Regions from separate parts of the Homo sapiens genome. Here all the other regions are reported to be linked to region 1. Evidence: microRNA targets listed by miRTarBase, many of them from high-throughput screens and not tested one by one. Region 1 holds a microRNA gene; each other region holds the end of a gene's coding sequence.

Region 1 (5,581 bases):
GAGGTGGGAGCCCAGGCTGGGATTCAGGATTTCGCTGCTCCCCGTTCAAGGCCTCTGGAGAATGTTCCAAAGGGAGGTGTGGATGTTTCATTCAGTACTTTGGAGGGAGAAAGAAATGGGTTCTTTCTCTGTATTCTCTAAGATAGATTTGTTCTTAATCTTGAAAAATCATTTCTAGCCATTTTAGAAAAAAAAAAACATTAGTACAGTATTAGTAAATATGGATGGGATAAAATTTTTTTTACATACACATAGGATTCAATACATTTTTCATATGCTGACCTTATAAGTCATATTGTTTTGAAATTATATTTATTAAAAATGTGATTAGAGTTATATTCATTCATGTTTGATTCTCTTTTAAGAATTATTCTCTATTAGTACTTTTCTTACATGATTCAACTTGGACTTATTAGAGAAATAAACTCTGGCACACTTTCTCCAGTCATATTCGTTGAGCCTGTATTTATAAAATTGGCATTTATTGGACCTCTGCTGTGGATACTATTTACTTCTTTTGAAATTTGTAAAAGAAGAAAAAAAGTTGAGCTTTTGTGATGACACACAAATTCAAACTAAATTTGATGCTTCCAAAGTATATGGCAGAGACGGATGCAACTATTCGTTACCAGAACAGTGGCGTCAGGAAGCCCCGTGCAGTGGGTAGGGGACACCTGGTGCTGCCTCCACACCCTGCCCCTGCCAGCCCCTGTTGTCCTGAGCTTCCGCAGCTCCCGCCTGACGTTTGGCTCAGAGTCGTCCACACTGCTCGTGTCCCTCGGCTGTGGAGCAGGGCCACAGTCTCCCTGCAGGGTTGTTTGGAGTTAGCTGAGCCAGCGTGTGGAAAGCATAGGTACTTGACAGACCACCAGTGCCTCCATGGAGCACCACCATTGTTAACTGCAGGCTTCTCTAGCCATTTAGAATACATATGAAGACTCAGAAAAACCAGTTTTACTTTTAGGAAATTACATATTCATGGCTTGAGCTATAGCCACTGACTTTGTGCTTGGAACAAAATACATAATTCTTTTTGGTTCAAAAGATTAGATTCAAATTATTGGTCATCAGAAACTGAAGTTTCCTAAGGCATATCACACGTAATTCAAGGTTGCTTTGATGTGTTATTCTGCTAATCCACAACCATGGAAGTTCCTGGTTAGTGCAATGTTTCATGCTCTGACAGCTATCTTTAAGATGTTGTTTTTGGGTTGCCAGGTGTTCATTTAAACACACTGGCCATGTGTTTGCACACGCACATGTGCATACACATAGCCACTGCGGAGCGCCAGGAGCTGTAACTGAACGTGGACTTGATAGAGCAGTATGCGATGTTTTTGTCTTCAGGGCAAGCTCTTGATGCATAGCTTCATGTGACATCTCGTTTATAACAGCCTGAGGCATCAGTAATCTTTATAGCAAGAATTCTAGTGCTGTGTTATGCATACCAAGCTTACCGTTTATTCTGCCCAGTAAATACATGGCTTTTATGGAGTCATAAATCATGACAGTAGGAGTCATACCTCTCCAAAAAAGAAGAGATTTAAATCTTTAGAGTTAACAAGATTTAATGTAATTTAGACATTATTCTTACTTAGAAGTACCATTCTTATTTAAAGGCAGTATATCTCATATCTTTAAAGATAACTTTAGAAACTTACTGCCAGAGAAACAAATATTGATTAAGAGCACACTGTGTGCCAAGCATTATGCGAGGTGCTGGAGAGAAGGAAGGGGAAGAAAAGGTCCTCACCCTCAAGTAACTTGAAGCTTAGAGGGACAATGATAAATAGTAAAAGATTCTAGAGTCCGGGCATGGTGGTTCACACCTGTAATCCCAACACTTTGGGAGGCTGAGGTGGGCGGATCACCTGAGGTCAGGAGTTCAAGACCAGCCTGGCTAACATGGTGAAACCCTGTCTCTACTAAAAATACAAAAAGTAGCCGGGCGTGGTGGCGCATGCCTGTAATCCCAGCTACTCGGGAGGCTGAGGCGGGAGAATCACCTGAACTCGGGAGGCAGAGGTTGCAGTGAGCCGAGATAGCATCACTGCACTCCAGCCTGGGCAGAGCAAGACTCCGTGTCAAACAAACAAACAAAAAAGATTCTAGAGCAGTCTGATCAGGGTGAGGGTTCCGTACTCTTCTTGTGCCATGAAGCAGGAGGAAAGGCCTCCTGAGGGAGCTGAGGCTGCACGAGGATGAGCAAGGTTTCATAATGTCCTCCAGAGGCCAGTTTACCAAGCTGCATCAGCTCCTCCCTCCCAGCCACCCTGCCCTTCATAAAGCTCTAGTTTTGTAGGGGATGGGGTGGGATGGGGTCACACCTCAGCTGCCGGCATGAGCTAAGGGACCATATAACAGTCAGCACTGTCCATCGCTTGCTTCTCTCTCTTTCTAATTTACATACAGCTAAACACAGATTTTTAATGAATGGCTGATAAGTTTTGACAGATGTCTGCACCTGTGTAATTATCACCCCAGTCAAGGTACAGAGAGCACCTCTATCCCCTCAGAAAGTTTTTTCCATGCTGGCTGTTGTGTGCCAGTGTGCCAGGAGAGCATGGGGCAGGGGAATGATGGCCCTAAGAAAGGAAGGAGGAACAGGGGGAATCTTGAATTACATTCTTTCCCCACGTGGAGATAGATTTGTGCTAATTCCACAACGTGGAACATCCTCCTTCGTTTGCTTAGACTTCCCTGGGAGCAGTAGCCCATGTACTGGTGGCCTAGCTCAACTGTGGCTTGGTTCTGGGCCTGTAAAGCCATCTTTCCCACCTACAGATGACATTCCCTATCTTCATCATGTGCTTTTAGTCAGGTTTCCTGCGGGCCAGATGCATCTGAGAGTGTGCCCTCATTAATATGGGACTCTGTGTATGTCCAGCACATGTGGGGTTTATTCACGTACCAGTGATTATTATTCAACATCGTTCCCTTTAGTGCAGCAAGCACTTTCTGAGTGCTTACCATGTGCCACTTTCTGTGAACCTCTGCAGTTCAACAGTGGAGTCAGAGGCAGTCCTTGTTCTCAAGTAGCTCATGATCTACTGTGGGAGACAGATGGCTAGATGATAGGGTGTAGTCATATCCCATTATTTCTGATACCCCAAATCTTGATCAGAAGCCTTGATCAGAAGCTAGGAAGGCTTCTGATCAAGATTTGTGGTGTCAAGAATAACAACGATTACAGCAATAGTAGTTGCTTATTGAGTGTGTCCTGTGTCCTAGGCACAGTTCTGAGTATTCGTCTCTTACCTCATTTAATGATGATACCTCTCCCATGTTGCAGATGAGGAGACTGAGGGCCAGAATGGTTCAGTAGTGTACCCAAGGCCACACAGCTGTTAAGTGGCATGAGAAAGAAAGAAACTTTCATTTTAAGCCTCTTAGATTTTTGTGGATTGTTTGTTACTGCAGCACGAACCAGCCCATCCTCACTGATAAGAGCCCCAGTGTGCGGAGTGGATTCCTGAGCCAGTTAAAAGGTTGCTACAGCAGTGGAGGCCTGGTTGGAGGGTGGTGATAAGCCTGGAAATAAAAGGACATATGTGAGAGACAGTAATTTGATAAAGAGTAATGAAAGAGGAAGCTTTCTTTCAGGTAGCTTATTCTGTTTCATTATTGTTGTTTTCCTTTTGGGAAAGAAGTTGAATTTTCATTGTTGGCTTATGTTTTCAAGGGTGACCTCAGTATTTTATTTTATTTTATTTTTTTGAGACGGAGTCTTGCTCTGTCGCCAGGTTGGAATGCAGTGGCGTGATTTCGGCTCACTGCAACCTCCACCTCCCAGGTTCAGGCGATTCCCCAGCCTCAGCCTCCCAAGTAGCTGGGACTTTAATGTTTTTATATTGGTGATTTTGAGCAGAGACTGTATTACCATCTAAAACACTACAAGCCTAGCATGTAAGCTCCATGTCTGTTTGCTCCTCATTCTCTCCAGGGCCCCTGGCACAGTTCCGGGCCCACAGTGAGTGCTCTGTAAACTTTTAGGGATGAACAAATGAATATTTTTAAATCTGTTCATTGTTTTCACAGTTAAACTTTTCTAAGCACTTATGTAATACTGTGTTTACTTAATTTTCATTTCTCACCAACCTTTATGGAAGACTAGGTGATAACTGGTTAAATTGTAATACAGTATCATAGGTATAATCTCGAAAAGGTAAAAATCAAATGTAACGAAGCATTATAATCCAGTGACTGGAACATTTTATGCAAGCCTTTGCTCTTTATTTATCTATTTTTTTATCATACACTTCTTCCCAGTTTTTGCTTAGTCCTTGTTAGCAGTTACATTAAAATCTGTTTTAAGTTCCACCTCAGGGAATATCAAAAGTTGGTTACTTTTCTAAATGGGCCTTTAATTAAAATTTTAAAAAATTAGACCATTGTGTTAGATTTTTTAAAATGTTGGCTAAAACAGAAAAGGTTGATTTCAGTGCAGTTGGGCTGAAACTATACTTAAATAGATTAAAGTATAATCTGGCTTTTAAAAAAAACACATCTGACTGGGATGAAGTAGTTGTGGTCTTAACTGAAGCAGGTGAATGGACCATATTCGCCTTTAAGAGCCTTCTGACTCCCAGGTTTTCTGATTTTTAAAAACTTCCTATTTAGTCATATGTTTTTACTTCACTTTATGGTTTAAGTGAGCCAACCAACAAAAGTTACTCATAAAAGATAGTATTTTACTTGTAACAATTGCAGAAAAAGTGAAAAGCTTGACATTACAGGTAGAAAGGAAGTCAGTCTCTGTCCCCTGTGCGTTTCCGAGACTGTGTTTCTATTTATTTGCCCTTTGTCTGTTTCCCCTGACCAGCGTGCGTTTCTTTCTGGAGGCGCAGGGACCTCGGCTTATTTTTCTCTGTCTTTGCATTGCTTGACAGAGGGCCTGACCCAGGGTAGGCACTCCCGCTTCATGACTACATCTCATTTTTTATTTATCTTTGTTATGATAGATAGCAGATAAAGCAGTTGATTTCAGTCAGAAGCAGACCACAGCAGCAGGATTCTTTCCACGGTGCATGTTCTGGCTGAGTGTTGGTGGGCTCCACCCTAGCCGAACCTGTGTCTGCACACCTGTTGTGTCTTCCTGGGAGGCTCCCAGGCATGCTCCTGTCTGGCCAGGGTGCTTCCTCCTCGCTCTCCAGCTGGCTGAAGGGAAGCTGGGCAAGAGTGTATGTGTTTAGGCCACAGGGAGAGCACAGACTCCCAGAGCATGAACCAAGGGGCTTCCAGGCCTCAGGGACTGCCTCCTGGTCCCCCAGAGGCCACCTCACTCTTACTCCTGTCTCCAGGCTGGTGACCTCACATGGCCCCAGCCATCTCTCCACATCCTCCCCTCCCTGCTGTGGAGCCCCCACTGACAGATGCCTTCCCCCTGTGTTTTGGCTCCAAATTCCAAGTGAGAGTAATTGCGTGGCTTCCCTTGGGTCTGTCTCCATCCCTGTTGTAGTCCCTCACAGCCCAGACTGTGGACTGCAGAGGCATCACCTAGGGGCTTGTCTGAGATGCAGAGTCTCAGGCTCTACCCCAGCATCCGGAATCAGACCATCCTCAGGGGATTGGAATGCACAGA
Region 2 (5,386 bases), not on the chromosome of region 1:
CATGCCTGTAATCCCAGCACTTTGGGAGTCCGAAGTGGGTGGATCACCTGAGGTCAGGAGTTCTAGACCAGCCTAGCCAACATGGTGAAACCCCGTCTCTACTAAAAATACAAAAATTAGTCGGGCATGGTTGCACATGGCTGTAGTCCCAGCTACTCGGGAGGCTGAGGCAGGAGAATCGATTGAACCTGGGAAGCAGAGGTTGCAGTGAGCCAAGATCATGCCACTACACTCCAGCCTGGATGACAGAGCGAGCCTCCATCTCAAAAAAAAAAAAAAAAAAAAAGTAACAAAATTATTTCTGGACATCTAATTCCCAGAATTCCCGGTCCCAACACTCTGGGACGCTGAATGCATGTGGGAATGAGGATGGGGAAAGCAGGGAGGTTAGGAAGGAAAGAGACTTGAGAATGTGACGCTGGTTTCAAGAGTCTGCAAGAAATTGTTTCTTCTTTCACAGGAAATCCGACGATGACTCTTGGGTGAGCAACGGCACCTATTTGGAACTTAGAAAAGATCTTGGTTTTTCCAAACTGGACCATCCTGTCTTATGGTGAAAAAGTAAAGAAGAAAGATAACATTAGTGTATTTCTCCTGTGCTTGCCTTCTGAAGTGGCACAAACCTGTGTTTATATATTTAAAAGATACTCTAGGATGATCACTTGTGCTTAGCTTAGCATTGTAACTCTTTAAGTCTATATTTTCCTCAGTGCGTTTCTTTACAATTTCAAATGTTACCCTGATTGTTTATATGAATGTAGAACACCTTGACATTTCTTTTTATATATAAACTATTTAATAAAAATGAAAGATTGAATGTTCATGTGTGGGTTAAAAAAAGAAGCTTTAACACTAATTTTCCAAAGGTTAGGGAAGATTCCAATTAAATTTATGCCTTATAAAATTATGTTGTAGAAAAAAAATCAACCTCTCCCAGGTGCATTAAGAAATAAGAATTCCCAGGGTTACTCACCCATGCGTAAGCTACCCAAGTTTAATTTGGTAGCTGAAATATCTTTTTGCCTCAGACAGCTCTTGAATTGCTCATACAGAACAATTCTGCTGGTGCTGGAGTCTGAAGAATATTTTCATTTGCATTTTAGTGGTTAGGGAGAGGATATAAGATTAATGGAATGTATATTTTTATATAAGACGTATACGGCACCTTCTTGAAAAGGAAGCATTTGAACTTGTTCCTCCCTATAGTTCTATTGCCTTATATGCAAAATTGTACCCTGTTGCTCAGAGAAATTATTCATAAGAGAAAAGAATTCCAATTAATTAAATATCACAATAGCATCCCAGAGAGACAGTAGGAAATTTCTCCTTAGTGAGAGCTGAGTCCTTGAGAAGTTAAGAGACTGTTTCCTGCTTCCCACCCCACCCCGTTTTTTGTCCCTCCGTTTGATCACCTCCCTGTTGAGTATGGAATGTCCCAGTTTAATATAAAACATACAGTTTATTCCACACAGCAGTTTGACTTTGTAAAAGTTTAGCAAAATAACTGATTGTTTTGGATAACTCAACATGTTTTTCTTAAATGCTGTTTTAGTATTTTCTACCTCTTAATAAGCACCATATTTTAGATCTTGTATAAAAAGTTGCCATCTGCCTTATAGACAAATGTAGAGAATTGATGTTCTTGCTTTGTGTTGTGTTCTGGTAAAGCTTTAAGTGAGTGTCTTACCCCTTTCCTATACTTTCTTGTTATCCATATCATTCTTTTGTGAGTTTTGCAGCAGTCTTGAATAATACAGATTATAACTACTGAAAGGGGAACCTTCGTCTTTTTAAATGTGTTATTTCACATTACAATAATATGTGTAGTAGTTGAATTGTGTTATCAAAGCATGTCCAACTTCTGTCCAGATGACATTAAAACCAAAGCCTAATTGTTAAGCCTCTTATTCTAAAGTCCATAGCAATGCTATGGAATATCAAGTATAATGATGTAGTAAAAAGATTTCTCCAGAAAACACTTTGAGATACTTAAAGAAATTCAGAGCATATCGAATGTTATGAATGAAGAGTAAAATAATTACAGGAAAAGAATGCATGATTTTTCATTGTCACACCAAATAACCAGTTGGACAATATTGCATTTTCAAAATGGAGAGTTATTTAAAGTGGATGTGTAGCCTTCTGGAATCTGCACGTGACTGGCATTTTAAAACAACTCATTAAATATTGGATTCATTTTATCGAGATGCCAAGATGAACACAATGTGAATATCATTTCCATTTCTAAGCAGTTGAATGACACAGTCAGATTCTTTGGTGTATGCTTTGTTCTTTCCATCTCAAGCATTTATCCAAATTCTGCTCACAGACATGAGGAAGCAGGCTGTAGATTTAAGGGCACTCAAGGGGAAAACAAATGTAGTTTCCACAGTGTGAGGATAAATGTAGAATCGTGGTAATATTGGCTGTTAAATTGGCCTGCTCCAGAGACTGGCTCAAAAAAGAAAGAAGCAACGAAAACAAAATGCACAGCCTGAATGGACGTAGCACTGTCATGTGGCATTTGGAAAATCTTTAATTATCCTAATGTTATTTCACTTGCCCTTATGCTTTATTTTAGAGTCCCAGGGACAACTGGATGAAACATTACGTCTGTAGTCATCTTATTTGAGATGGGGGTGGGAACGAATTAAAATATGATAGAGAACTATATGCAGATTTTAAAATCTAGTCAGTACTAGCATCTATAAAGGGCTTTTCTGAAATTTAAACAGCTTGGTGATGCATCCTGATATTATAAGCTTAAAACTATCTTGAGGGGGAAATGACTTCTTTTCTCCTTCTGTCCCTTTTCTCAAAAGCATCTTTCCCCCAAATGTATGTCTCTAGGACATTTTATAGTTTTAAGAGGAAGAAAACAGAAACGTGGCATCATTTGGGAAGAACCAAGGTAGAATTTAATTTTCTGGACTTTAAATCTCCTGGTTAAATAATGCTAATCACTGTACCATTTGAGTTACATGTTTTAACCTCTTTTTTTTTTCTAATTATTCCATCCAAAATTTCTGGTGAATTACACAGAAATTTTTGGAAATGGGACTTTGTGCAGGTAACCACCCTGCACTTCAGGTAATGTTCCTGTCACAGCTGTCGACTACCCCACGCTGCAGGAAATCCATTCAGAAATGAGCTAACAGTCTCCAGTGTAGCAGGAGAGCCAGTCACTTCCCTCCCCAGGCCCCAAAGCACCCCAAGGCTGGTATTCCTTGAGTCATAGGTATTAATAATAAAAGCCTCAATGCAGCTTCTCCATGTAGTTCCTCTCCTACAAGCCAGGTGGATTCTGGTCCTAACTAAAGAGATGGGAGTTCACCTGAGGGCAAGAAGTACCCAGGATGCCCAAACAGCCGCACAGGTGTCCTGTGCTTCCTGTGAGACTTCCTGGGGGAAATATACAAACTAATATATTTTTTAATGTTTACGTCATTTACACTGCTGCTTTTCTCATATTCTGCTTTTAATTACTTGTAGTAAATCATTTGTTTGGGCTTCAAGCACTGTCTTCCATCTGCATCTTCCAGATTTATCATGAGTGATCTTGTTCTACTGTTAAAGATGTCAAGCCTAAAAAGTAATAAAGTTTTTATTTGGCTGTTGAACCTTGATGTAGCCCCTACTACATACACTACAAGTTATGCCTTCTGGCTACTACAGAATCTCCGCAGACCTTTTAGTTATGAGTAGAAGCAATAAGAAGGTGTCCTTATGGTCTTAGGAATAATAGTTCCAATGTATTGGCATAATTTGTTTGAATGTCTTTATTTTGATATTAACACCGGCATAAATCTATTTTTGCTACCAGATGATAGCTATTTTCATTTGCTCTATTTTCCTCTGCATTGTACTAATCTGTTACTCAGTGTTAGTCTTCATTTTTCTGTGTTGGAAACCTGCGTCATGTAAATATCTGCAAATCATGACAGTCTAAAGTGCAAACCATTTTCAGAGACTTTGGGGAATGCAGTGATCAGAAGTGGCTAATTTATTTTATTTCTGATTATTTTATCCAGAGGGTACTTTTTTAATGGATATTTGTAAATCTTCCACTTAACCACTGAAAATTATTTTGTTTTAATCCCACCCTTCCATCCATACCTCTGCCTCCCCAAAAAGCTCCTATTAATTTGCTTATCCCCCTCATGTAGCTAGTTGAATGTGAATAAATAACATGGAAAAAAAGGCCACTTTTGTCTTTGTTTTTCCAGGTTAATGGGAAGGTTATTTGGCTGCTAAAAGGGAACAGAACAGGACCCATGCCTGAACTCTTTCAAGGAGGAACACACCAGGTTACTGGAAGTGATGGGGGTTGGAGATAAGAATACTCTGGGACACAAAACACTTGGAAACCATCGAGTCACCATACCTTTTCCCCTAACATTTCCAAGGCACGCCACAATTGTAGAACCCCCTCAGCCCTTGGAAGAGAGAACTGAGGCAACTGGAGCCCCAGACAGGACACCTCCAGCCCCAGGAGCCCCTCTGTCGATTCCAGTGTGCTATGAAAATATTACGGTTGATTCTTGAACAACACAGGGGCTAGGGGTGCCAATGCCCCATGCAGTTAAAATCCACACAGAATTTTTGACTCCCCCAGATCTTACCTACTAATAGCCCACTGTTGACCAGAAGCCTTCCCAACAACACAGATAATTAACACATCTGTTGTATCATATATGTAATATAGACTGTATTCTTATAATAAACCTAGAGAAAAGCAAATGTTACGAAGAAAAACATTAGGAAGAGAAAATACATATACTGTTATTAAGTGGAAGTGGGTCACAATAAAGGTCTTTGTCTTCATCGTCTTCACGTTAAGCAGGCTGAGGAGAAGGAAGAGGAGGGGTCGCTCTTGTTATTTCGGGGTGGCACAGGCAGGAGGAAATCTGAGTATAATTGAACCCACACAGCTCAAATCTGTGTTGTTCATAAGGGAGGAGACCACCCCTCGTATTGTCTTATGCCCAATTTCTGCCTCCAAAGGAAGAAGTAAAAACTAAAAGGCAGAAATGAAATCCACAGGCAGATAGCCGGGGGCATACCCTGGGCCTGGTAGTTAAAGATCAACCCCTGACCTAACTGCTTGTGTTATCTATAGATTCCAGACATTGTACGGGAAAGCATTGTGAAAATCCCTGTCCTGTTATGTTCCGTTCTGATACCGGTGCATGCAGCCCCCAGTCACGTACCCCTGCTTGCTCAATGGGTCACAACCCTCTCACGCAGACCCCCTTAGTTGTAAAGGGACAGGAATTGTTCACTCGGGGAGCTCGGTTTTGTAAGTCTGCCGATGCTCCTGGCAGAATAAAGCCCTTTCCTTCCTCAACTCGGTGTCTGAGGGGTTTTGTCTGCAGCTAGTCCTGCT
Region 3 (3,000 bases), not on the chromosome of region 1:
CCAACAAGCTGCAGTCGACCAGAGGAGGGGAGGCCAGTTCCTCTCCCAAGGGTGCCACACACCCCTCCCTGTTCATCACCAGACAGGCCCTTCCTTCTTAGCCATATGCTAACCTTCTCCTCCCTGGGAAATTTCCTCTGCAGGAGCCAAAGCAGATGGGAGCTGGAGTTGCTGGAGCTCCTGGTCTGTATGCAGAGCAGGCATCCAGGAAAGGAGAAGAGAGTGTGACAATCCAGCACCTCAGAATGGAGGGGCCTCGTGTCCAGGGCGGAAAGTACAGACGCAGGCTTGCTGAGGGCCTCTGGACACAGGCTGGACCAGATGCTGTGGATGTCGACCCCTGCACTGACTATTGGATAAAGACTTCTTTCAACTAAGAGAAGATGCAAATCAGCACACTTTTTTCTTTGTTCTGCCAGCTTCCAGGCCTAAGACTAGGTTTTGCTGTCTACAGCCAACTATTCTATTAGTTACAAAACTCAATCATTTTATTCAGCAACTGGATGTTGACTGTTAACTAGAAGCTCTGTCCTACTTACAGCACTTTGGATCATCAAAAAAATAAAGTAAAATAGAAAACTGAGAAAACTCAATCCATGACCAGGGAGAACTTACAGGATGTTAGAGACAAAACAAGCAGACACCTGAAACAATCAACGCCCAATAAAACAAAGTAGGATGAAAATTCTCTTAGTTCTTTGATAACAATTTGTTCACTCATAGAAACATTATTAATTGGTAGGGTAAGCAGACACTCTGAAACAATGAGAAAAATACTAAAAATTGACTTGAGTTATTTCAATTTGCCTTCATTTGAACTCGTTTATTAATTCAATTAATCTCTCTAGTTCCCTTAAGTTCTTACCACAAATGTGACATTTCTCCTGATTATTTTCTCATGGAACACTTCTTTTCCTACATTGCAATTTTCACAACTAGTAATTATATTATCTTAGTCTATTTGGGCTGCTATAACAAAAAGCCATAAACTAGGTGGCTTATCAACAACAGAAATTTATTTCTCACAGTTCTGGAGGCTGGGAAGTCCAATATCAAGGCAGATTCAGTGTCTGGTGAGGGCCCACTTCTTAGTTTTTACAGGACTGTCTTACTGCTGTGTCCTTACATGGCAGAAGGGGCTAGGCAGTCTCTTAGGTCCCTTCTTTAAGGGCACTAATCCCATTCATTAGGGCTCCATTCTCGTGACCTAGTCACTTCCCAAATTTCCCACCTCCTCATGCCATCACTTTGGGGTTAGAATTTCAACATATGAATTTTGAAGGGACACAAATGTTCAGATCATAGCATATATATTTAATCCCACATCTCCTGTGACTATGTAAGACCTATCTCTTCCTAAGAGATAATAATCTTGAGGGCAGAAGTCAGGCTTCTTTTGTTTAGCACTGTAGCCCCGGAGGTCAGGCTTGTGCCTTAAATGTAGCAGGGACTTAGTAAGTAGCTGTGATTAAATAAGTGAATGAATTGAAGAGTCAGTTCATAGATGAGGTACACATTGGTCAGCCTCCCAGAGTGGAGAGTGGATTTGAAGAGGCCAACTAGTGACGATCAATCCGCCTTCTCTGACCCATCTCTAGGGGAGGCCAATCACACCAGCCAGCCTCAGAATCCCACAGCCCTCCAGTCATGCCTCAAATAGAGAACATGTTAGGTAGCACTGAATTTTCTGTTTATCCATCAGTTTCCCCTATTAGATTTTGAGCTCCTTGAAGGCCAAATCTACAATCCTAGTGTATAGTAGGTACTCAAGAAATGTCTGGTGACTAACATATATATTGATGCTTCAAGTCATTCCAGAGTCCTCAATCTTGTTAAAGTCAGAATAAGAATTATGTACCTGAAACAACTAGAGGAGGTTTTAGGGAAATTAATTGTTGAGTTAATGCTAAAATATGTAGCACACAAAGTAAGTGCTGAAGGAGGCCAGGTGGGAGAGAGATTTACCTTTCCATTACTGTGTATATTGTGGATGGCATGGGGATTGCCCCAGGCCCTGAAGGACTTTTCAACTAGGCAAACTGGGAGGAGATCTCTCAGACAGAAATTCGGCATGAGACAAAGTCTGAAAGTGAGAAAGACATTTGGGGGTGCATGCAGGTGCGTATGTGTCAGGAAAGGGGAGTGAGGAAAATAATGCATGTAAATAAAATAAGGCATATAAAACACTTGGCACTATGCCTGTCATACAGGACATTATTACCCTCATGCTTATCGTCATCATTATTAAGACTATTATTAATTAAAGAATGTGATTTAGAAGTTAATTTCTGAACTCTTTAGATCTTCTACCTGAAAGAAGAAAAAAAACTCTCCTATTGCTTTTCATCCTGTCATTAATTTGCTTTTTACTTTTTAACTTACATTAATAATTAACCTACATTCATTATTTACTGAGTAGTGGCAGTTACATGCTAGAAAGTGACCAAGGGCCAAATATGCCAGGCCACGTGGGCACTTTAAAGAGAACGTTTGATCTTGACCTAAAAAAACAGTGGTTCTTAAACTTGGTTGTATGTTACAATCACCTGAGCAGTTTTCAAAACCCTGATGTCTACAGACTGCACCCGAAACAAATTAAATCTTAATCACTGGGTGTAGGGACCAGACATCCATAGTTTTTTGGGGTTTTTTTGTTTGTCTGTTTGTTTTGAGACAGAGTCTCCAGGCTGGAGTGCAATGACACAATCTTGGCTCACTGCAACCTCTGCCTTTGGGGTTCAAGTGATTCTCCTGACTCAGCCTCCTCAGTAGCTGGGACTATAGGTGCACGCCACCATGCCCAGCTAATTTTTGTATTTTTAGTAGAGATGAGGTTTCGCCATATTGGTCAGGCTAGTCTCGAACTCCTGACCTCAGGTGATCCACCCACCTCGGCCTCCCAAAGTGCTGGGATTACAGACTTGAGCCACTGCGCCCGGCCTGACATCCTTAGTTTTAAAAGTTCCTCAGGTGATTCCAAGTGCAGCCAAGGTTGAGGCT
Region 4 (5,581 bases), not on the chromosome of region 1:
CCTCATTTGTGTGTAGCAAAACACATGTTTTTTCAGTCTCAGATGATAAGCAATTTTTTAGAGTCTTCAAATATGTTTTTGAGGCTTTGGAAAGAAATAATAAGGCTGATTTAGGAGGTAATGATGTTGGCAGCTAGCCCAGTATGGAGTAGTTAGCCAAACTGGATTGTAGCTCCATGTGCCACTATGTTATAGCTACGGGAGTCTACCTTACTATAGAATTTGGTATAAGCAAAACTTATTTTGACTGCTTGATCCCTACTTTAAGGCCTCAACCACAGTTTGAGTCCAGTTTTCCTAATTTCTTCTTGGGTTCAGATTCTATCTGCTTGGATTTATGATGAAATAGCATAAGCAGATATTGGTGAAGAAGGTGGTGCTTCTTAGGGCTGTTGTTTTTCTTGTTAATTTTTGATCGAGATAGGGTGTATGTGGTATAAATTCATCCTTTCAAAGTATTAAATTCGGCATCCTTTATTATATATTTGAGCCATCACCACTTTATAATTCTAGAACATTTTCATCACTCCCTTTTTTTTTTTTTTTTTTTTTTTTTTGAGACGGAGTTTTGCCCTGTTGCCCAGGCTAGAGTGCAGTGGCGCACTTTCAGCTCACTGTAACCTCCACCTCCCAAGTTCAAGCAATTCTTGTCCCTTAGCCTCCCGAGTAGCTGGGATTACAGGCATGAGCCACCATGCCCAACTAATTTTTGATTTTGTTTTCATTTTGTTTAGTTTTTTGAGATGGAGTTTCGCTCTGTCACCCAGCTGGAGTGCAATGGTGCAATCTCTGCTCACTGCAACCACCGCCTCCTGGCTTCAAGCAATTCTCCTTCCTCAGTCTCCCGAGTAGCCGGGATTACAGGCGCCCACCCCCACACCCGGTTAATTTTTTGTATTTTTAATAGAGATGGGGTTTCACCATATTGGTCAGGCTGGTCTCGAACTCCTGACCTCAAGTGATCCACCTGCCTCAGCCTCCCAAAGTGCTGGGATTACAGGTGTGAGCAACCGCACCCCTGCCTAATTTTTGTATTTTTAGTAGAGACAGGGTTTTACCATGTTGGCAAGTCCGGTCTTGAACTCCTGAGCTCAAGTGATCTGCCTACGTCGGCCTCCCAAAGTGCTGGGATTACAGGCGTGAGCCACCGCACCCAGCCACCCCATTGTTAAGTCCAGAGAATTAGGCCCTCCTGCCTAGAGGTTCTGCTGCTAGAGTAGTTTGTCTTTGGCTGCCCAAGTCCTGCCTTGAAACAATGAGAGGGTAACTTGGACCAGGCCTGTCTGGGCCTTGTGTGTTTATGGCCTGGCCACTTGAGTCAGGATCATCTTCACTGCATTTTCTCTTTCATTTCAGCAAATTATGCGCACAGCCATGAAGTATAACCTGGGATTGGACCTGAGAACAGCTGCCTATGTTAATGCCATTGAGAAAGTCTTCAAAGTGTACAATGAAGCTGGTGTGACCTTCACATAGATGGATCATGGCTGACTTCCTCACTATCCTCTTCACATGTAACTTCTGCAGACCTATCACAAGTTTACATGTAACCACAGAAATCCCTTTCTCTCCTGACTCATTAATAATGGATACCATTCTCAACAAGTCAATCCAAGTCAGCCCGTTAAGGAGAAAGAAATTAAGGTTAGCGGATCATGTACAAGCTGAGTGTGAAAGTAGAAATCACCTACACCAGAGAGCCATTTTGGTATTTTGCCTTTAAATAAAAAGCCTCCTTTATCTGGCTGTGCAGCCTTGCTCTGTGGCTTTTCCCAACACAATCAGTGCTAGTGCTGGGGAGGAACAGTCAAGAGCAGTCAGTTGCTTGCTTATTTTTTCTGGATGAGTCTGGGACACACTGTAACTTTAACACATTTAAGAAGTAGGTGTGTGGCCTTTTCAGAAGGTGGCATGGTCCTCAAGTGAGTTCTTAGTATTTTATATCAGCAAAATAATTCAATTTTGCAGGTTGCAAACAAATATAAAACCTGTTTCTGTTTATGAATATTATTCTTTTAGAATAGAATAAGTACATGCTGCTGTAATAAAATTGCCTTTAATCACTTAACAAGCCTAACCTTGACTCAAACAGTGAATGCCTATAGAAATAATAAATGAAAAAAACTAGTATTTTTATATCATAAAACAATGTCATTTATAGCTTATCATTCATGTATTGTCCAGCAGACATTAAAAGCCCTGTGGATAATTAAGTTATCTTCATACCTGCAAAATGGTGGAGGCTATTTTCATTAAAACTGTCAGAATTTGCTTACTATAATTATGATACAGTCCAAAGAATGCAGTCACTTTTTATCATGTTAACTAATTGTTCTCTTTTGAAGATCTATGGTTGACTAATTAAACAATAATTCAAGTAGAGTGTCCCAGAAAAAAACCACTTGGGCTCCCTGTTTGGAGTCTGGCTGGCTCTGAGCATTGCCAATGGCCCCTACTCACCTGACTTTGTATCCTCTCCTTTTAGAGGCTTTGCATTCTGCACCCAGCTTCACTAACAGTGGGCTGAAAACATCCTTGGGTTGAGTGTTTCATTTGGGAGTTATTTGGCCAGGGCCTTTTGAACAGTAGTGTCCCCATGAAGTGCTAGATAATATATGTGTAAGAGTCAGCTTTTTTTTTTTTTTTAACTCTAACACCCTTCAGAAATTTCTAACTACTTTGTAACTGCATGGCTTAACCTGGTGATAAAAGCAGTTATTAAAAGTCTACGTTTTCCAAAACTTACGTTTCTTTTCTGTGTTTTTACATGTGGTAGTTTCTCTTTTCATAAGTTATAATACTGCAATTGGATTTCTGAAATGTTTATAGCGACCACCTGTATAACATTTCCTTCCACTTTATTGTGAGCTGCCCAGATTTTATTCTTGAATTGTTTTTTTTTTTTTTGTTCGGTGCTTTACACGTTCAGAGAAACTTCCCGAGTAACGAACTATAGAAATGATCCCTGAAAGCATAGTCTTTATTCTCGAATTATTTTGTATTTTATTAAATAATATGAACAGCTGTTCTTGAGAAAGAGGCTCTAATGTTGAAAGCTGATAGTGAAGTAACTTTTAGTGCCGTTTTTCACTAAAGGGGATTTAATGTGGAATAATTTAGCCACAGAATGTAACAACTATTGAAGAGAGAATACTAACTGTAATCAGAACTGGATTCTAGACTTGATTCCACCAGTTACTTAACTGCCAGTGTGAAGCCTGGCTTTCATTTGGTCTTTGTCCGTATGTCACAGTTCTGCCTCTGCATGCTCCTGGCATAGGGTCAGTCAGATAAACAGGCCCCCAGTATATGGGCATAGTGAGCCCTTCCCCAGCATGGTGGTGTCTATCTGCACTCTAGGTGGGCTACTAAAATGTGTAAGGGGGAAAGTGATACAAAAACCAGTTCCAGAATGTTAGAATAATGGTGGGGCAGCAGATTTAAGTCATGTGAATGTGGGATAAGTCTTAGTGGTGGCCTTTGACTATATATTGGAAATACTGATTTTTTTTTGGTTGGGGGGTTGGTTTTTGTTTTTTGAGACAGTGTCTTGCTCTGTCACCCAGGCTGGAGTGCGGTGGTGCAATCACGGCTCACTGCATCCTCTACCTCCTGGGATCAAGCAGTTACTCTACCTCAGCCTCCTGAGTAGCTAGGACCACATGTATGGGTACGACACCTGGCTAATTGTTTTTATTTTTTTGTAGACACGAGGTCTCCCTATGTTGCCCAGGCTGGTCTCACACTCCTGGACTCAAGTGATCCTTCCACCTTGGCCTCCCAAAGTACTAGGATTACAGGCATGAGCCACCATGCCTGGCCAATGGTAATTTTTTAAAGATTAATGTTGAGGAGTATTGTTGATAGTAATATTAGAAAACTAAATTGCCTGTGCTAGCTATATAAAGATGAGAGCACTAGTGTCAGTAATTTTGGCTCCTGAAGGTTTTAGTTTTTAAAAATCTGGTCAATTACTCTTTTTACCTTGACAGAAATTTTCTTTTTTTTTTTTTTTTTTTTTTTTTTTTGAGACGGAGTCTCGCTCTGTCCCCAAGGCTGGAGTGCAGTAGCGTGATCTCGGCTCACTGTAACCCCCCGCCCCCTGGGTTCAAGCAATTCTGCTGCCTTAGCCTTCCTAGCAGCTGGGACTACAGATGCGTGCCAGCACGCCCAGCTAATTTTCTCGTATTTTGATTAGAGATGGAGTTTCACCATATTGGCCAGGCTGGTCTCAAACTCCTGACCTCATGATCCACCCACCTTGGCCTCCCAAAGTGCTGGGATTATAGGGGTGAGCCACTGTGCCTGACCTATTTTCAATTATTTTTAAAACTCACACACGATACTCAAGTTACTTGCTTCTGAAATAGCCATAGATGACTTATATAGCACCTGAAGAAGACTTAACTGGTGCTTTATGAGCCTCTACACCAGTGTATTCTAATATCCCTGATTAAGGAGATGAGAAGTAAAGGCATGAATTTTCAGTGCTTTTGGCACCCTAACTAGTAGGATTGGTCATTCCTTTTTTCTATATTTTTTCTCTTTTCCTTTTTTTTTTTTTTTTTACTCCATGACTAGCCAAAGAGCTGATTTACTTTTTTAAAAACGCTTGGCATGGCTGAGCACGGAGGCTCACGCCTGTAATCTCAGCACTTTGGGACGCCCAGGCAGGCGGATCACAAGGTCAGGAGATGGAGACCATCCTGGCTAACATGGTGAAATTCCATCTCTACTAAAAATACAAAAAAATTACCCGGGCGTGGTGGCGGGCGCCTGTAGTCCCAGCTACTTGGGAGGCTGAGGCAGGAGAATGGCGTGAACCCAGGAGGCGGAGCTTGCAGTGAGCCGAGATTGCGCCACTGCACTCCAGCCTGGGCCACAGAGTGAGACTGTCTCAAAAAAAAAGAAAAGCCTGGCATGTTAACTCACAAGCAAATAAATTCCATATTCACTAAACATCCCTGACAGGCTTTCCCAGCCCTGCTGTTTGTTAAGGTAGTCAAAGCATGGCACATGAAGAAAACTACATCTATGGATATTGTACAAAATATTGTTTTTATGATTTTTTAATATTTTTAACAGACTTTTATTGACTTGTGTTTGTATTTTTATCAAACATACTTCATTTATTTATTTATTTTGAGACGAAATCTCACTCTATCACCCAGGCTGGAGTGCAGTGGTGTGATCTTGGCTTACCGCAACCTCCGCCTTCCAGGTTCAAGCGATTCTCCTGCTTCAGCCTCCGGAGTAGCTGGGATTACAGGCATGCGCCACCATGCCCAGCAAATTTTCGTATTATTAGTAGAGACGGGGTTTCACCATGTTGGCCAGGCTGGTCTCGAACTCCTAACTTCGGGTGATCCACCTGCTTCAGCCTCCCAAAGTGTTGGTATTATAGGCATGAGCCACCACGTCCAGCCTCAAACATACTTCAGTTTTTCACCTCAGCACTGTTGACATTTTAGGCTATGTAATTCTCTGCCTTGTAGGATGTTTAGTAATATCCCTGGCCTCTACACATTAGATGTCAGGAAGACCCCCTCAGTTATAACAATGACAAATATATTCAGATTGC
Region 5 (5,581 bases), not on the chromosome of region 1:
TTTATTTATTTATTTTATACTCTAAGTTCTGGGATGCGCTTGCAGAACGTGCACGTTTGTTAACAAACATATGAAAAAAGTTGTAGGTCTCAGCTTTTGAAAATCAAGTATTCCATCCCTTTTGAAGTCATGTCAAGGGACCTAACATGACCCATCAGCTACTTCTCTCACAAGTGACCCACATCTGCTCTTCATGAAACAGTCAACACATCCACTACTCTTACAAATTATCTTCTCTTCACTTCACTGTCTGAGCCTCTATCTAGTCAAGTTTCTCACACAGTAGATCTCTGAAGCACGAGTCAGATACCAGTCCATTGTATGTCCCAAGCTCCAGGAGTCACAAATCAAGCTCTTTGAGTGTCCTATTCAAGCCCCTTCTTCTACATGATGGAAGAGCCCACTGTGGTGGCTTCTGTTGGAGCCTTGCTCAGATCCCTTTCACCAGGTGGGTGCACTCATCTCCCAGTTGCTATGTTGGCCACGAACAACTCACAGCTGCCCTTCTCAGGGAGGGCCTTATGAGACAGCAGGACCCTCTCTCCTGGAAGGTTATGCCCATCACACTACAGGCCAGCCAATGGCCAATGACTGACTGACATGGGGTTCAAAAGTCTGAAACCCTAGCTTCAAAGTGAGACAATTCTGTGATGCAATTCATGCTCCAGAGCTCCCAGGCGAACCAAGCTAGACTGCTTTCCAGCTGAAAACCTCTCATTGCTGGGCTCCTTCCCCTGCCCCATCCTGCATCCCTCACTTCCCACCTCCTGAGAGCACCCACTCAATAAGTCACTTGTACAAGGAACCCTGTGTCAGGTTCTGTTTCTGGGGAATCCAACCTAAGACAAGGCCTGTCATCCATGGAAGCAGGTGAGGCAAGAGAAACTCACAACACAACAATAGTTCTGTTCATAAACCTCTTCTAATTTTCATCTGCCCACATCCACCCTTCTATGCCCTTCAGTGGCCAATGAGTGGTGAGTGGCAAGAGTATCCAAATGAATGTTTACCAACCCCTTTTTAAAGTCTAGCATAGGTGGCCTTACTTTAGAATATGGGAAATGTTAGCATCTATTTGCTTGAGGCCAGGAGTGAAATAGTTCCCTTTGACTTCCTGATGTTATATGAGGTGCATATAAAATTCTGAGCACATGACAGGAGTCTGCTGAATGATAGCTATTATTTTGGTCCTTTAAAATAATGTCCTGAGAATTCATTGCATGCCACATGCTAGGCTCCTTGACAAACATTATTATCTCATTCTGTCCTCACAGTGACTCTTCAGAGGGTCACAGTACTATTAATCCTCATTTTATTGATCCTCATTCATAAAGCTAAATTTCAGAAAACATTCAATGCCTGGGCCTCATTCCAAACCTAGGTTTTTGCCTAATTTTTTATCAAACCTTTTTCTCACTGTGCTGGTTTCCCACCCTAAAACTGCTCTCCCTTTTCCAGTTTGTTGCTCCTGCAACCTCAGTCAGCAGGGATTCAAGCTGCAGGTTCTAACTTCGTTCTTGCTGACAGTAAAGTATTTTGTTTTTTTTCTTCCTTGGCATTCAGATCTGCGTGAGTTCTGAAGAAGAACAAGATGGTTTTATCAGAGTCCTCAGTGGAAAAAAGAAAGGCCTCATCCCCCTTGATGTACTAGAAAACATCTGATTGCTGGCTCCTCCTCCGTTTGCAGTAGGCAAGCTCTGCTGCGATGCCTCTGCCTCATCTCACACTGCGTCAACCCAAAGGAGCTGCCGCACTGACCCAGCCCCCCAGGAAACAGTGAGACAAGAATCAAGTATCTGAGACTGTGGAGTAATAGCCACAAAACAGAGGGCCCACTGCACAGCATATCCAGGCTGCCACAGGTGGGGACGAGGCTGAGAGAGTCAGCAGGCAGAGCCAGATGCCATGCTTGGCAGCAGCAGTAGGACTATAAACCACAGCTGTCCCCCAGGATCCCACTCCTTTCCTGTCTGTGTGGTGTAAGTTAACACACTGGAGTGTGCTCCAGTTTGCAGGGTAGCCCAGTGCAAGGTTCAGATCCATGTAGCTAAGTATTATCCTGCTTCCAGACCTATGTCACCAGTACCAATCAGTCAGTGTCATCACATTTCAGGCCCCAAGCAATCTCTGTGCAAAGCATCAGAAAGACCTGCTTCCCAGCCCCCAGCATTCCAGTGCTCTCCAGGCTTCCTCTCTTTGTGATTGTGCTGTCCAGAGTGTCCAGCTTGTTCTTTCTTTCTCTTCAGTCCTCTGAGTACATCTGGTGGTGTGCATTAGATGTGAGGGCTATGTTGACATGGCATCACCTCCAAAGACCTGACCTGCCTAAAGACTGATGACAGGCCATCCTTCCTGCTGTTCTAGGTACTGGCCTGGGTGACAGAGCAGGACATGAGACATAGATACAGTGGGGAGGAGAAGTGGGGAAAGGTGGAGCAGAGAGTTCTTACTTATTGAAGATTATACAGCCCTTTCGGTTATGAAGTCCCTGCTTGAAGGCAATGGACCTGGGGAAGAGACTATCACAAAAAGTCTCCATTTTCATTTTACATCCTCTCTATTGGAGGCAGCACTTTTCCCTCATGCTGTCCTATAGGACTCCACTTTGAAGGTTGTGCCTACGTTGCAGGGAACTAGGAACATGGAGGGGAACCAACAACAGCATCTTAGAAGAAATGTAGCCAAATTGGAGTCCATTCTTCTTTAGGGCAGTATATGAAATCCTAGCAGATGTAAAATGGAAAAGAATCCTAATGCTTCTTCCTTCAGAAAGTAGAGGAACTAGGGGCCCAATTAGCATCATCTAGGGGAATCTCTATTACTCTGTACTTATACTAATGTTTACAAGAATGCAATATACTGTGATGCCTTCCTACTCAAGCCTCCTAGCATTCAAACTTCCATCCTATTAGTCATTAACATGGTTAAACTTCAATTCACAATCACCTTGGAATCAATGTCAGTTTGATTTATTTTGTTACAGAGCAATAAAATCATTAGAACAATGGTTTTTAAAAGACTTAAGTGGATGCATCCTATGCATGTAAGCATTATTTCCCAAACCAAAGCATCATTCATCTCCATTTATTTCTTTTGTTCCCGCTCAGTGTGAAGTTGGGAACTGAGAGGGGATGGCTGCTGGTTTCACAGAAGTTTGGATGCCTTACTCTTATCTTAAAGCCAGCATCCAGAATTTCCTCCCTCTCTGATGCCACATGCAAAACCAGGTGTACGATGTCAAGATGGATTCTTTGAGAGCCAGGGTAGATCATATGACTGCCTTTCTGTAAAATTGGATGCCTAGTACAAATGCTCTTTGCCTCTAATTCAGTATTCCATTTAATAAAAACAATACAGTGGCTGGAAAGGAGCATCAGAAACATGTGTCCTGATCTCTTCTTTCTGTCATGATATCCATTAACTTTTTGGTACAATGATGTCACATCATATGCATGTTTAATTAAGATGAATCTTAAAAATGAGTTTGCCTTTTACAGTTGAATAGAAGGAAGATGTGGTATCTAGCCTCCAAGGTAGTCTCCCAAAGATCCCTACCTCCTCATATTCTTTCCTTTGTGTAGTCCCTTCCCACACTGAATCAGGGCTGGTCTTATGTGACCAATAGAACACAGCAGAAGTAGTACTACAAGGCTGTCTTAGTCTATTTTCTGTTTCTATAACAGAATATCTGAGACTGGTTAATTTATAAAGAAAAGAGATTTATTTTGCTGACAATTCTAGAGGCTAGGAAGTCCAAGAAGCATAGCGCTGGCATTTATTTGGCTTCTGGTGGTGGCCATGTGCTGTATCATAACACGGCAGAGAAGCAGAATAGAAAGTAGGCATGTGCAAAGAAATAGAGAGAGACCAAACACAAGGAGCAGCCTTGATTTTTAACAACTCACTCTTGAAGTAACAAACCCAGTCCCAAGAGAGCAAGAACTCACTCACACCCGTGGGATAGCATTATCTATTCATTATGGATTCTCCCCATGACCCAAACACCTCCCATTCAGCCCACCTCCCAATATAGCCACAATGGCAATCAAATTTCAACATGAGTTTCAGAGGGGACAAACTATATTCAAAACATAGTAATGACCCCATCTCAAATTGCATCTGAGGTTAAGTTTTAAAAGCAGCTTTAGCCTTGATCTCTTGGAACACTCACTGTTGGAACCTTGAGATACCATAAGAATTTCAACTACCCTGAGGCCACCATGCAGGAAAGACCCTGTGGAAAGACTACATATTTCATCATCTGAGGTGGCAGACATCACAGAGCAGAGATGAGTCGTCCCTGCTGAGCCCTGCCCAAGTTACAGATTTATGAGCAAGATAACTATGTGGGGATTTTTTAAGTCACTATGTTTTGGAGTGATTTGTTATACAGAAACAGATAACAGAAGCAGGGGTTTTGTAATTTAAGTCAATGTTAGAAGAGAAAAATGCTCTTTCTACACAATCAGGCCCAAAAGCGTTGCAAACATCAAGTGTTAGCAGGCAATTATCCCTCTAAATACAAGATATGTAGTATTCCCTAAAGATCTGGAGTCATCCAGACCTAAGGGAAAAAGCAAGATGTTCCTCATAGTATAGATTTCCATGAGTGCTTACACAAACACAGAGATTTTAGGAGCCACAGCTTTTTTTTTCTTGCCTGTCTGCAGAAATTAAAAGCACAAGGATAGCTACGGCCTACCAAAGTCTTAAAGGTTTGCAAGACTCAGAAAATGGCTAAAAGAAGGACCATAATTTTTGAGTGGAGAAGAGATGAAGATCTCAGGAGATACTCTGGTGAGGAGACAGGGAAGGAGGGGAAGTGTCCATATGAAGAATAAAAAGGGGACCTGAGGGATATGCTTTGTAGTGTACGAAAACAGCCTTGTACCCCCTTACCTCTGCCCCTGCCTATAGCCAAGGGATGGTACATACCTAGCTGCACCAGGGAAGATATGCCCTATACTTCATCACTAGTGCCATAAGACTTTACTTCTATTATAGTAAATTTGAAATGAAGAACTGAGTGAACCTTCCTCAGGGCTCCAGAAGGTGGAGAATAGAACTCCCTTTACTTCCCATCACTAGCAGACATCTACAGCACCTCTCACATGGGCAGCAGGGTGGCAAAGAGAGCCCATGTGTAGATATCCAGATTGCTAGATTTCACAGACAGATACCCACATGGCTAGATTTCACAGATGGTTGATTTCACAGACCACTTTTCCTTCCCAAATACACAACAAACACCACCACCACCACGACCACCCATACACACACACTAATTCACTCCCATTAAGAGGAAGGGTCCAGCATTTGGGTTGCATATTTAGAGCAGGTAGTGGAGAGAATATGGCAGGATCTATTAGAGTTAGTGTTCTTTGCTATTAAAGAGAGAAAAAACCAGTGGGAAGATCACAACACCTTGGTGCCAAGTACTGTTAAAAGACAAAAGAGCCAGTTGTCCAGGAAATTGGCTACTCCAAGGAGGAGAGAGCCAAGAAGGAAATCTACTGGCCAGCCTAAGCCTAGAGCCAGGTCCAGTCAGAAATGCAGCTGTGAAAAAGTGGTGTGTGGGAGA
Region 6 (4,515 bases), not on the chromosome of region 1:
TCTACACCCAGATGCAGCCCCTCCCTGGTCGACTGGAGCTTCCAGGATCCCGAGAAGCAGGTGAGGGACCTGAGGACCTGGCTGATGGAGGTCCCCTCCTCTACCGGCCCCGAGGCCCCCTGACTGACCCTGGGGCATCCCCCAGCAATGGCTGCCAGGACTCCACAGACACAGAAAGCAACCACGAAGATCGGGTTGCGGGGGTGGTATCCCTCCCTCAGGGTCCCCCACCCCAGCCACCTCCCACCATTGTGGTGGGCCGGCACAGTCCTGCCTACGCCAAAGAGGACCCCAAGCCACAGGAGGGGTTATTGCGGGGCACCCCAGGCCCCTCCAAGGAAGTGCTTCGGGTGGTGGGCGAGAGTGGTGAGCCTGTGAAGGCCTTCAAGTGTGAGCACTGCCGTATCCTCTTCCTGGACCACGTCATGTTCACTATCCACATGGGCTGCCATGGCTTCAGAGACCCTTTTGAGTGCAACATCTGTGGTTATCACAGCCAGGACCGGTACGAATTCTCTTCCCACATTGTCCGGGGGGAGCATAAGGTGGGCTAGCAACCTCTCCCTCTCTCCTCAGTCCACCACTCCACTGCCCTGACTACAGGCATTGATCCCTGTCCCCACCATTTCCCAAGGAGTTTTGCTTTGTAGCCCTCACTACTGGCCACCTGACCTCACACCTGACCCTGACCCCTCCTCACCTATTCTCTTCCTCTATCCTGACCGATGTAAGCATTGTGATGAAACAGATCTTTTGCTTATGTTTTTCCTTTTTATCTTCTCTCATCCCAGCATACTGAGTTATTTATTAATTAGTTGATTTATTTTTGCCTTTTTAAATTTTAACTTATATCAGTCACTTGCCACTCCCCCACCCTCCTGTCCACAACTCCTTTCCACTTTAGGCCAATTTTTCTCTCTTAGATCTTCCAGCAGCCCCAGGGGTAGGAAGCTCCTCTTAGTACTAAGAGACTTCAAGCTTCTTGCTTTAAGTCCTCACCCTTTACATTATCTAATTCTTCAGTTTTGATGCTGATACCTGCCCCCGGCCCTACCTTAGCTCTGTGGCATTATATCTCCTCTCTGGGACTCTTCAACCTGGTACTCCATACCTCTTGTGCCCTCTCACTTTAGGCAGCTTGCACTATTCTTGAATGAATGAAGAATTATTTCCTCATTTGGAAGTAGGAGGGACTGAAGAAATTCTCCCCAGGCACTGTGGGACTGAGAGTCCTATTCCCCTAGTAATAGGTCATATTCCCCTAGTAATATGAGTTCTCAAAGCCTACATTCAGGATCTCCCTCTAGGATGTGATAGATCTGGTCCCTCTCCTTGAACTACCCCTCCACACGCTCTAGTCCCTTCAACCTACCGGTCTATTAAGTGGTGGCTTTTCTCTCCTTGGAGTGCCCCAATTTTATATTCTCAGGGGCCAAGGCTAGGTCTGCAACCCTCTGTCTCTGACAGATTGGGAGCCACAGGTGCCTAATTGGGAACCAGGGCATGGGAAAGGAGTGGGTCAAAATTCTTCTCTTTCTCCTCCACCTCTCAAACTTCTTCACTATAGTGACCTTCCTAGGCTCTCAGGGGCTCCTTCAGTCCCCATCCTATGAGAAACTAGTGGGTTGCTGCCTGATGACAAGGGGTTGTTTCAGCCCCTCAGTCATGCTGCCTTCTGCTGCTCCCTCCCAGCAGGATTCACCCTCTCATTCCCGGGCTCCTGGGCCCTGTTCTTAGGATCAGTGGCAGGGAGAAACGGGTATCTCTTTTCTCTCTTCTAATTTTCAGTATAACCAAAAATTATCCCAGCATGAGCACGGGCACGTGCCCTTCACCCCATTCCACCCTTGTTCCAGCAAGACTGGGATGGGTACAACTGAACTGGGGTCTTCCTTTACTACCCCCTTCTACACTCAGCTCCCAGACACAGGGTAGGAGGGGGGACTGCTGGCTACTGCAGAGACCCTTGGCTATTTGAGTAACCTAGGATTAGTGAGAAGGGGCAGAAGGAGATACAACTCCACTGCAAGTGGAGGTTTCTTTCTACAAGAGTTTTCTGCCCAAGGCCACAGCCATCCCACTCTCTGCTTCCTTGAGATTCAAACCAAAGGCTGTTTTTCTATGTTTAAAGAAAAAAAAAAGTAAAAACCAAACACAACACCTCACAAGTTGTAACTCTTGGTCCTTCTCTCTCTCCTTTTCTCTTCCCTTCCTTCCCCTTCCATCTTTCTTTCCACATGTCCTTTCCTTATTGGCTCTTTTACCTCCTACTTTTCTCACTCCCTATCAGGGATATTTTGGGGGGGGATGGTAAAGGGTGGGCTAAGGAACAGACCCTGGGATTAGGGCCTTAAGGGCTCTGAGAGGAGTCTACCTTGCCTTCTTATGGGAAGGGAGACCCTAAAAAACTTTCTCCTCTTTGTCCTCCTTTTTCTCCCCCACTCTGAGGTTTCCCCAAGAGAACCAGATTGGCAGGGAGAAGCATTGTGGGGCAATTGTTCCTCCTTGACAATGTAGCAATAAATAGATGCTGCCAAGGGCAGAAAATGGGGAGGTTAGCTCAGAGCAGAGTAGTCTCTAGAGAAAGGAAGAATCCTCAACGGCACCCTGGGGTGCTAGCTCCTTTTTAGAATGTCAGCAGAGCTGAGATTAATATCTGGGCTTTTCCTGAACTATTCTGGTTATTGAGCCCTTCCTGTTAGACCTACCGCCTCCCACCTCTTCTGTGTCTGCTGTGTATTTGGTGACACTTCATAAGGACTAGTCCCTTCTGGGGTATCAGAGCCTTAGGGTGCCCCCATCCCCTTCCCCAGTCAACTGTGGCACCTGTAACCTCCCGGAACATGAAGGACTATGCTCTGAGGCTATACTCTGTGCCCATGAGAGCAGAGACTGGAAGGGCAAGACCAGGTGCTAAGGAGGGGAGAGGGGGCATCCTGTCTCTCTCCAGACCATCACTGCACTTTAACCAGGGTCTTAGGTACAAAATCCTACTTTTCAGAGCCTTCCAGCTCTGGAACCTCAAACATCCTCATGCTCTCTCCCAGCTCCTTTTGCATAAAAAAAAAAGTAAAGAAAAAGAAAAAAAAATACACACACACTGAAACCCACATGGAGAAAAGAGGTGTTTCCTTTTATATTGCTATTCAAAATCAATACCACCAACAAAATATTTCTAAGTAGACACTTTTCCAGACCTTTGTTTTTTTGTGTCAGTGTCCAAGCTGCAGATAGGATTTTGTAATACTTCTGGCAGCTTCTTTCCTTGTGTACATAATATATATATATACATATATATATATATTTTTAATCAGAAGTTATGAAGAACAAAAAGAAAAAATAAACACAGAAGCAAGTGCAATACCACCTCTCTTCTCCCTCTCTCCTAGGGTTTCCTTTGTAGCCTATGTTTGGTGTCTCTTTTGACCTTTACCCCTTCACCTCCTCCTCTCTTCTTCTGATTCCCCTCCCCCCCTTTTTTAAAGAGTTTTTCTCCTTTCTCAAGGGGAGTTAAACTAGCTTTTGAGACTTATTGCAAAGCATTTTGTATATGTAATATATTGTAAGTAAATATTTGTGTAACGGAGATATACTACTGTAAGTTTTGTACTGTACTGGCTGAAAGTCTGTTATAAATAAACATGAGTAATTTAACACCTCTGGTTGTTTTTGCAGACTTCCTTTGCCTTGCTTTTCTACTAAGAGGGAGGGGTCCTCCTTGCAGTATGTTATACCAACTACTGAACAGTTTAGGAGGTAAACAAAAACGAAGAATTTTCAGCCTAGACTGGGAAATGGAGGAGATTTTCCTACCAGGAAGGAGTGCCTTCAGGATAGGAGAGAAAGTCTGACTTGCCTGTCTACCCAAAGTAGAAATTAATCAAACATTTGTTGAGTACCTACTGTGCACAAAACACATTCTATGCCCAGGGTGAAATAATGCGAATGATGACAATCATAGGGTCTACCACTGCTTGAGCATCTCATAAATGCTAAGTACTCATTGAATTGTAGAAACACCTACAAAAGGATGATCACAATTATTGGTAAAAAAATAAAAGCCCAAGAGAGAATAAATACCTTATCCAAGGCTCATCAGCCAGTAAGTGACAGAACCAGAATTTGAACCCAGGGGTGTGTGATCCAAAGCATGTGCTCATCGCTTTATGCCAGGGAATGCAGCCAGTGAAACCCCTAAGCTAGAAAAATCCAAAGTAGGAACATAAATTTGTTTCTGTCTTAAATAGTAACTATTTTCTGTTCTCTTCACTCTGAACTTTTTTATGTTCTCTTCCATCTACCTCATTGCTATTCCATATAGTAATGTCTGCCTTCTGTTTTCCACAAGATTACAGTGAAGTGAAAATTAGAGACACTCCTATCTAGAGTCTATTATTTTCCATGTCCCACTGAAACTGGCAAATTCAAAGTCAAAACAGACAGGAAAGCTGGAAGTGGTGGAGGACACCTGTCCTCCCAGCTACTTGGGAGGATCACTTGAGCCTAGGAGTTTGA

The links. Region 1 holds the annotated microRNA hsa-miR-4762-3p (CUUCUGAUCAAGAUUUGUGGUG, at 3,150-3,171, shown strand). A microRNA usually pairs through its seed, bases 2 to 8, with sites in the 3' UTR of a target mRNA and lowers its output. Matches are read on the target gene's strand: a 7mer-m8 pairs with bases 2 to 8, a 7mer-A1 pairs with bases 2 to 7 and ends in A, and an 8mer does both.
Region 2: miRTarBase lists OSBPL3 as a target of hsa-miR-4762-3p. Seed matches in the 3' UTR shown: 7mer-A1 at 3,141-3,147 and 7mer-m8 at 3,988-3,994.
Region 3: miRTarBase lists C8A as a target of hsa-miR-4762-3p. The part of its 3' UTR that is shown has no 7-base or 8-base seed match.
Region 4: the mRNA of GLUD1 is a reported target of hsa-miR-4762-3p. Seed matches in the 3' UTR shown: 7mer-A1 at 2,661-2,667.
Region 5: miRTarBase lists STAC as a target of hsa-miR-4762-3p. Seed matches in the 3' UTR shown: 8mer at 2,139-2,146, 7mer-A1 at 2,766-2,772 and 8mer at 3,373-3,380.
Region 6: the mRNA of IKZF4 is a reported target of hsa-miR-4762-3p. Seed matches in the 3' UTR shown: 7mer-m8 at 3,310-3,316.

Annotation. Positions count from the first base shown.
Region 1 is chr22:45,757,423-45,763,003 of GRCh38, forward strand. It overlaps MIR4762 (microRNA 4762), which reads left to right and starts at 3,102; the gene lies at 3,102-3,176. The region is part of intron 9 of ATXN10 (ataxin 10); the gene reads left to right. RefSeq lists enhancers at 245-1,243, 5,229-5,581 and a silencer at 5,387-5,581.
Region 2 is chr7:24,795,354-24,800,739 of GRCh38, reverse strand. OSBPL3 (oxysterol binding protein like 3) reads left to right here. Exons shown (of 23, transcript NM_015550.4): 23 at 461-4,200. The coding sequence ends at 557. It also overlaps a transcript of GSDME not described here. Among named protein-coding and RNA genes, the nearest start is that of GSDME, 41 kb to the right of the region's middle. RefSeq lists an enhancer at 4,987-5,386.
Region 3 is chr1:56,917,422-56,920,421 of GRCh38, forward strand. C8A (complement C8 alpha chain) reads left to right here. Exons shown (of 11, transcript NM_000562.3): 11 at 144-802. The coding sequence ends at 295. Among named protein-coding and RNA genes, the nearest start is that of C8B, 47 kb to the right of the region's middle.
Region 4 is chr10:87,047,646-87,053,226 of GRCh38, reverse strand. It overlaps GLUD1 (glutamate dehydrogenase 1), which reads left to right. Exons shown (of 13, transcript NM_005271.5): 13 at 1,357-3,025. The coding sequence ends at 1,476. Among named protein-coding and RNA genes, the nearest start is that of FAM25A, 30 kb to the right of the region's middle.
Region 5 is chr3:36,544,628-36,550,208 of GRCh38, forward strand. STAC (SH3 and cysteine rich domain) reads left to right here. Exons shown (of 11, transcript NM_003149.3): 11 at 1,564-3,380. The coding sequence ends at 1,662. Among named protein-coding and RNA genes, the nearest start is that of STAC, 170 kb to the left of the region's middle.
Region 6 is chr12:56,034,778-56,039,292 of GRCh38, forward strand. IKZF4 (IKAROS family zinc finger 4) reads left to right here. Exons shown (of 8, transcript NM_022465.4): 8 at 1-3,658. The coding sequence ends at 554. Among named protein-coding and RNA genes, the nearest start is that of RPS26, 4.9 kb to the right of the region's middle.